Linked DNA regions of Homo sapiens. The protein of the gene in region 1 interacts with the protein of each later gene in a pairwise test. Each region holds a gene or a part of one and is shown in the gene's direction. Other genes may lie near its edges. The genes, in order: CDH15 and SGTA.

Region 1 (3,806 bases):
GGGGGGACCCAGGCCCAGGATCTCGGGATCCCCACCCTGTCTCGGCGCGAGGAGGGCAGGCGAAGTGGGGGCGGCCTCGGGAGGCCCTCGCTCACCACAGGCGCCCTCCGCAGTGAGCCACGCGCGCCTGCGGCCGCGACACCAGGTCCCCGAAGGCCTGCACCGCCTCAGCCTGCTGCTCCGGGACTCGGGGCAGCCGCCCCAGCAGCGCGAGCAGCCTCTGAACGTGACCGTGTGCCGCTGCGGCAAGGACGGCGTCTGCCTGCCGGGGGCCGCAGCGCTGCTGGCGGGGGGCACAGGCCTCAGCCTGGGCGCACTGGTCATCGTGCTGGCCAGCGCCCTCCTGCTGCTGGGTGAGTGAGCGCCCCGCCTCCACCTGGACCCTCGGACCCTCGGACCCTCCTCCCCAGGCCGTCCCCTGCTAACCAGCCACGCCGCTTCCTCCCCAGCTCCGCCTCCTCCCTAACCCCGCCCCCTCATTACCAGCCACGCCGCTTCCTCCCCAGCTCCGCCTCCTCCCTAACCCCGCCCCGTCATTACCAGCCACGCCGCTTCCTCCCCAGCTCCGCCTCCTCCCTAACCCCGCCCCCTCATTACCAGCCACGCCGCTTCCTCCCCAGCTCCGCCTCCTCCCTAACCCCGCCCCCTCATTACCAGCCTCGCCGCTTCCTCCCCAGCTCCGCCTCCTCCCTAACCCCGCCCCCTCATTACCAGCCTCGCCGCTTCCTCCCCAGCTCCTCCTCCTCCCTAACCCCGCCCCTCAGTACCAGCCACGCCGCTTCCTCCCCAGCTCCTCCTCCTCCGTAACCCCGCCCCCTCAGTACCAGCCACGCCCCTTCCTCCCCAGTTCCACCTCCTCCGCAACACCACCCACTCATTACCAGCCACGCCGCTTCCACCCAACCCGCCCCCTGCTCGCCAACCCCGCCCCCTCATTACTAGCCACGCCCCTTCCTCCCCAGCTCCGCCTCCTCCCTAACCCCGCCCCCTCATTACCAGCCACGCCCCTTCTCCACTGCCGCCTCCTCCCCAACACCACCCACTCATTACCAGCCACGCCGCTTCCACCCAACCCGCCCCCTGCTCGCAAACCCCGCCCCCTCGTTGCCAGCCACGCCTCTTCCCCAAGCCGGCCTCTCCTTACCAGCCAAGCTCCCTCCTCCACAACCCGGCCCCCTCCTCCCTAACCTCGCGGCTTCCTCCCCAACCCCGGCTCCTCCATGCCAGACACGCCCTTTCCCCAACTGCCGCCCCCTCAACCCCACCCCTGCTTACCAGCCTTGCCCCGCCCCGCCCCCTCCTCCCACCTCCTTCGCAGCCCGGCCCCCTGAAGTCGCGCCCTGTGCCTGGCCCCAGCCTGCGTCCCCTCATTCCCCAGTGCTGGTCCTGCTCGTGGCACTCCGGGCGCGGTTCTGGAAGCAGTCTCGGGGCAAGGGGCTGCTGCACGGCCCCCAGGACGACCTTCGAGACAATGTCCTCAACTACGATGAGCAAGGAGGCGGGGAGGAGGACCAGGTGAGGGGGCAGGTGTGGGTGGGGAGGGGTCCCCAAGGAACCCAGGTCGCGGGCCTTCTTACAACAAGCTGGCCAGGAGCCTGTACCTGAGACCTCCACCAGGGCCACCCGAGGGATGCCTGGCTCTGTTCCACCTCCTCGCCCACAGGACGCCTACGACATCAGCCAGCTGCGTCACCCGACAGCGCTGAGCCTGCCTCTGGGACCGCCGCCACTTCGCAGAGATGCCCCGCAGGGCCGCCTGCACCCCCAGCCACCCCGAGTGCTGCCCACCAGCCCCCTGGACATCGCCGACTTCATCAATGATGTAGGTGCTCCTGGGGACACCCCAGTACACACAGGCACGCACAGGTGCACACACACATGCACATGTACACACCTGCACATGCATGCAAGAACCGGCGCCTGCATGCACTTATGGGCCGTCCCAGAGCACCGCAGAGGAAGATGGTGTGCGGGCGGGAGTGTGGAAGCCCCGCTGCCACCGTCCAAACTGGGCCCTCAGCCTCCACCCGCGACGCGGGTCTTTGCACAGATGGAGTGGCGATGGCCACAGACCCATCCACTGCCCCGTGTCCACCATGGAGGGGGTGGGGGAGCCCCGGGAGCATCCCCTGGGCTTCGGTGGCTGTCAGCGGAATCAGGGCCTCCATAGAAGACCCTCTGGACACAGCGTTAATGATTCCCTGCCATCCACAGGATGAATGTGCACACGGGGAATCTGGGGTGTGGGGCGCACAGGGAACCCTCCTCTGTGCCTGTCTGCACCTGTAGCACCTGGCTCAGAGAAAGCCCCCAGCCAAGGTGTACACCCCCGGTTAGGAGCGTGTGTCCCCACGAGCTGAGAGGACAGACATGCAGACAGAGCCTCCGAAAGGCAGACGGGCCGTTCTGCGGATGGGGGTGTCCAGGAGGCTCGGGTTCTGCCTTGAGTGGACAAGGGCCACGGGGAGGAAGAGACCAGGGTGAGGGGGAGCAACCCCTTCCCACCTTGCTGGGGCAGGGCAGAGCCCCGGGGGACGGGCTGGCCGCTGGCCTAATACTGAGGAAGGGGGTAGTCCGTGGCACCCTCTTCACAACCCTGCTGCTGTGCCCTCAGGACGCTTTGCCTCCCCTCAGACCTCGCCCCCGGACGTGGGCAGCTTCCCCTTCCTGAGCCCGTGCCTTGAGCTGACTTTGCCCTGGGCTGTGGCCACGGCGGTGGGGCACCCGCTGGCCCCTCCATGTGTCTTGAGCTCTCCGGGCCTCTTTATAGGGCTTGGAGGCTGCAGATAGTGACCCCAGTGTGCCGCCTTACGACACAGCCCTCATCTATGACTACGAGGGTGACGGCTCGGTGGCGGGGACGCTGAGCTCCATCCTGTCCAGCCAGGGCGATGAGGACCAGGACTACGACTACCTCAGAGACTGGGGGCCCCGCTTCGCCCGGCTGGCAGACATGTATGGGCACCCGTGCGGGTTGGAGTACGGGGCCAGATGGGACCACCAGGCCAGGGAGGGTCTTTCTCCTGGGGCACTGCTACCCAGACACAGAGGCCGGACAGCCTGACCCTGGGGCGCAACTGGACATGCCACTCCCCGGCCTCGTGGCAGTGATGGCCCCTGCAGAGGCAGCCTGAGGTCACCGGGCCCGACCCCCCTGGGCCTGGGGCAGCCTCCTTCCTGTAGGCGAGGGCCCAAGTCTGGGGGCAGAACCTGAGTGTGGATGGGGCGGCCAGGAAGAGGCCCCTTCCTGCCGGGGTGGGAAGAGTTTCTCTCCATCGGCCCCATGCGGGTCACCTCCCTAGTCCCACCTTTGCCTCCTACCAGTGAACCTCATCTTTGTATGAAAGACAGCAACCTCCTGGGTAAATCTGAATGAAAAACGTGCTAGTCTCTTTCATGCAGGACGGGCGCCCACTGCCACACTGACCATGAGGGGGATGGGGCCAGTGAGGCCTGGCCTGGCAGGGACCTGAGGGCCAGGCCCCCATACCACCCTGCTTGGCTGGGGCAGGAGGCGGCCGGGGGCTGCCACTACCTGGACAGGGGCTATGGAGCAGCCGCTGACACCCTGGCTCCTTGCTGGTGAGCCCAGAGGTGGGGAGCAGGCACAGGTGAGACCCTTCCAGGCCCCAGGTGTGGCCTGAGGGAAGAACCAGGGAGGACGCCAAGTTCCACAGAAGCCTTTATCCTCCACACCTACTGGGTGTGGCTGGGGGGAGACCCAGGGCCTCCCAGTGCCTGGGGCCTGGCTGGAGACACCTTCACGCTGTCCCCACGGCTCCACCTGCACTGAGACACGGGCTTCT
Region 2 (3,806 bases), on another chromosome or scaffold:
ATGTTGGTCTCAAACTCCTGACCTCAGGTGATCCACCTGCCTCTGCCTCCAAAAGTTCTGGGATTACAGGCGTGAGCCACCATGCCAGGCCAAAAATTACCATCTTAATCAGTTATAAATGCACAGTTCAGTGGCTTTAAGCACATTCACACAGCTATGTAGCCATCGCCACCATCATCTCCAGAAGTTTCTCATCTCCCCAGGCTGAAATTCTGTCCCCATGAAACATTCACTCCCCAGCCCCTGGCACCCCCAATTCCACTTTTGGTCTCTGTGAATCCAACGACTCTAGGGACCGCCTAGGAGGGGAGTCACACAGGTTTTGTACCTTTGTTTCTGGCTTATTTCACTGAGTGCGACGTCCTCAAGGTCCGCCCATGTTGTAGCCTGGTCAGGATTTCCTTTTCATGGCTGCGTAGCGTTCCGTCGTGTGGCTAGGCCACATTGTGTTGATCCACTCACCTGTCCGTGGACACTTGGGCTGTTTGCTTTTGGCTATTGTAATGCTGTTGTCAAAACGTGCTTAAAAATAAAACAAAAGAAACTCCGTAAACCAAAAATCTTCACCTTTCGGGTGGCATGTGTCTGTTTTCCTTGGGCTTGGGGGTCAGGAGACCTGACTGGTTTGCTCTCTGAACCCTGTTGGCCGGGGCGGATGACGTCAGCTTTTGTGGTTTCACTTTCTGGTGGTGGTTGACTGCCGTGGGCCCTGATGTGTCGTACATGAGATCTTTGGATTCTGGGACTGGCTGCCCGCCGGCTCTAGGCAGTCCTGATCCCAGACCTCAAAGTTCTGGGCTGTCCATTGTGTCCTGAGATGGGGGCGGAAAACTCATTACCATCCCGCAGGAGCTTTCAGGAAGACCGTAACTCCCTGTCCAGCGACACAAAACACAGCTCTTGTAGATTTCTCCCCCTTTAAAACATTGAGCTGTGATTCCCACACCGCTGTGATCCCCACACCGTGAAATTCAGTGGCATTTGGTGCCTTCACAGGGTTGTGCAACCATCACCACTCTCTGGTTCCAGAGCTGTCTCATCGCCCCAAAAGGGAGCAAGGAAGCTGGTCCCCACCAGCTGTCACTCCCCTTCCCCTCCCCAAGCCCCGGCACCCACGCGTCTCCTTCCTGTCTCTGGATGGGCCTGTCCTGGACATTTCATAGAAATGGAGTCGGTGTCACACCCTGTGTGTGCTTTGGGTCTGGCTCTTTTGCTCTCTGTTTTGTTTTGTTTTTTAATGATTGCTGATGGATGTTGCTTTCCCTGAAAGGGAAACAAAGCTGTGGGCACACCCAGTGTGTCTGGGACTATGCTTGTTTAGTGGCGTGGAGGTCCACGTCGCCGGTGTCATCTGAGTCTGACGTCAGCCACTGTTTAAAGCGTGGCGGGCCAATGCCTTGCTTGTCTCTGGCGCGGGGTGGGTTATGCGGTCAGGCAGCCCACGCCTCATTTTCTAGGGGGTGGTGGCTGTTCACCTCATGTAGAGGCATTTTAGGGGAACCAAGACACTGAACGCCTCTGATCTTGAGTGTGGGGGCAGGTCAGGCGCCTGCCGGGCGCGGATCCTGCCGTGCCTGTGGCTCCAGTGGCCTTGAGTGAACACCTCCATCCCCAGTCCTGCCGCATAGGTCACTGCGCCGAGGTCATGAGACGGTGTTGTGTCAAGGGCCTGGTGCACCCACAGGCTCTTCAGGTCCTCCTCTTCTAGTCCAGCTTTCTCCCAGTGGGAGCTGTGGATGTTGAGGCCGGATCATCCTCTGGGATGGAGCCGTCCTGGGCACTCCAGGGCACTGAGCAGCGTCCCTGGCCTCCCCCCACTCCATGTGAGACAACACCAAGTGTCTCAGCACATCCATCGAGAACCGCTGGTCTGGGAGAGAGACAGAATCTGGAGAGACATGCACGCACACACACACATGCGCGCGCACACAGCTTCAGCAAAATCCAGTGGGTCAGTAGAATCCACGGCTTTCCTCAGCATTTGCCTCCTGGAGGAGGCCGGGTATGGTGGCTCACACCTGTGATCCCAGCGCTTTGGGAGGCCAGGGTGGGAGGATTGCTTGAGGCCAGGAGTTTGCCAATGTTCATGGGCAGGTATTTTACATAGTTGACGTTCTAGGTCTGCGAAGTGCTCAGGTAGGTCATCTGCATGGTTTTAATGCTTTTGGTGCCCTGCCTCTGATGCTGTCTACACGGGGATGGTTGTAGGTGAAGGCCTCTGTGTACGCGTGCACGGGTGTTAACCTACGTGTCTCGGGCCATTAGACATCTGTGCACTTAAAGTTAAAATGGACATTTGCATAGACGTGATAGGAAGTGTCGTTTTCTTATAAAAGAAGCTGCCCCTCGGGCAGCTGGCTCCTGGGACCGCAGCACAGTGAGCAACGCGCAGCTGCTCCCTCCCTCCGTGTCCCTCGGCCACCGCCCTTCACTGCTCCCTTCCGTGTGATGACAGCCCGTTTGTTCTCCTGTCTATGTGATCCTGGGCATGCGACCACGCGTCCCTGCCCAACCTGGCTCAGTTCAGCTGGAGACAGGGCCGACCCGCTTGTTGGAGTCGTCACGAGGACTGAGGTGCGTCCTGAGATGCCTGCTTGCCAGGTGTTAGTGTCGGTTTGCTGGGGCCGCGGTGACAGAGTGCCATAGACCAGGCAGCTGAAACAGAGTTCATCGTCTCTCAGTCCTGGAGGCCGGAAGTCCATGATCAAGGTTCTGTCGGGGCTCGTTCCTTGTGAGGACGTGAGGGCAATCTGGTGTCCCTGCCGTGTGGCCGCGTCACCCATCTCTGCCCTCGGTGTCCCTGCCCTGTGGCCGCGTCACCCATCTCTGCCCTCGGAGTCCCTGCCGTGTGGCCGCGTCACCCATCTCTGCCCTCGGAGTCCCTGCCGTGTGGCCGTGTCACCCACCTCTGCCCTCGGTGTCCCTGCCGTGTGGCCGCGTCACCCACCTCTGCCCTCGGTGTCCCTGCCGTGTGGCCGCGTCACCCACCTCTGCCCTCGGTGTCCCCGCCGTGTGGCCGCGTCACCCACCTCTGCCCTCGGTGTCCCCGCCGTGTGGCCGCGTCACCCATCTCTGCCCTCGGTGTCCCTGCCGTGTGGCCGCGTCACCCATCTCTGCCCTCGGTGTCCCTGCCCTGTGGCCGCGTCACCCATCTCTGCCCTCGGAGTCCCTGCCGTGTGGCCGTGTCACCCACCTCTGCCCTCGGTGTCCCTGCCGTGTGGCCGCGTCACCCACCTCTGCCCTCGGTGTCCCTGCCCTGTGGCCGCGTCACCCACCTCTGCCCTCGGTGTCCCTGCCGTGTGGCCGCGTCACCCATCTCTGCCCTCGGTGTCCCTGCCGTGTGGCCGCGTCACCCACCTCTGCCCTCGGAGTCCCTGCCGTGTGGCCGCGTCACCCACCTCTGCCCTCGGTGTCCCTGCCGTGTGGCCGCGTCACCCACCTCTGCCCTCGGTGTCCCCGCCGTGTGGCCGCGTCACCCATCTCTGCCCTCGGTGTCCCTGCCCTGTGGCCGCGTCACCCATCTCTGCCCTCGGTGTCCCTGCCGTGTGGCCGCGTCACCCATCTCTGCCCTCGGTGTCCCTGCCGTGTGGCCGCGTCACCCACCTCTGCCCTCGGAGTCCCTGCCGTGTGGCCGCGTCACCCACCTCTGCCCTCGGTGTCCCTGCCGTGTGGCCGCGTCACCCACCTCTGCCCTCGGTGTCCCTGCCGTGTGGCCGCGTCACCCATCTCTGCCCTCGGTGTCCCTGCCGTGTGGCCGCGTCACCCACCTCTGCCCTCGGAGTCCCTGCCGTGTGGCTGCGTCACCC

Evidence for each region.
Region 2: the proteins of CDH15 (region 1) and SGTA interact in binary tests that used the Homo sapiens proteins (3 or more experiments, as listed by UniProt).

Annotation. Positions count from the first base shown.
Region 1 is NC_000016.10:89,192,092-89,195,897, forward strand, and holds the end of CDH15 (cadherin-15 preproprotein), read left to right. Parts: intron 1-113; coding exon 114-353; intron 354-1,378; coding exon 1,379-1,515; intron 1,516-1,663; coding exon 1,664-1,822; intron 1,823-2,770; coding exon 2,771-3,064; 3' UTR 3,065-3,401; downstream 3,402-3,806. UniProt on the Homo sapiens protein: Cadherins are calcium-dependent cell adhesion proteins. They preferentially interact with themselves in a homophilic manner in connecting cells; cadherins may thus contribute to the sorting of heterogeneous cell types.
Region 2 is NC_000019.10:2,772,972-2,776,777, reverse strand, and holds part of SGTA (small glutamine-rich tetratricopeptide repeat-containing protein alpha), read left to right. Parts: intron 1-3,806. UniProt on the Homo sapiens protein: Co-chaperone that binds misfolded and hydrophobic patches-containing client proteins in the cytosol. Mediates their targeting to the endoplasmic reticulum but also regulates their sorting to the proteasome when targeting fails.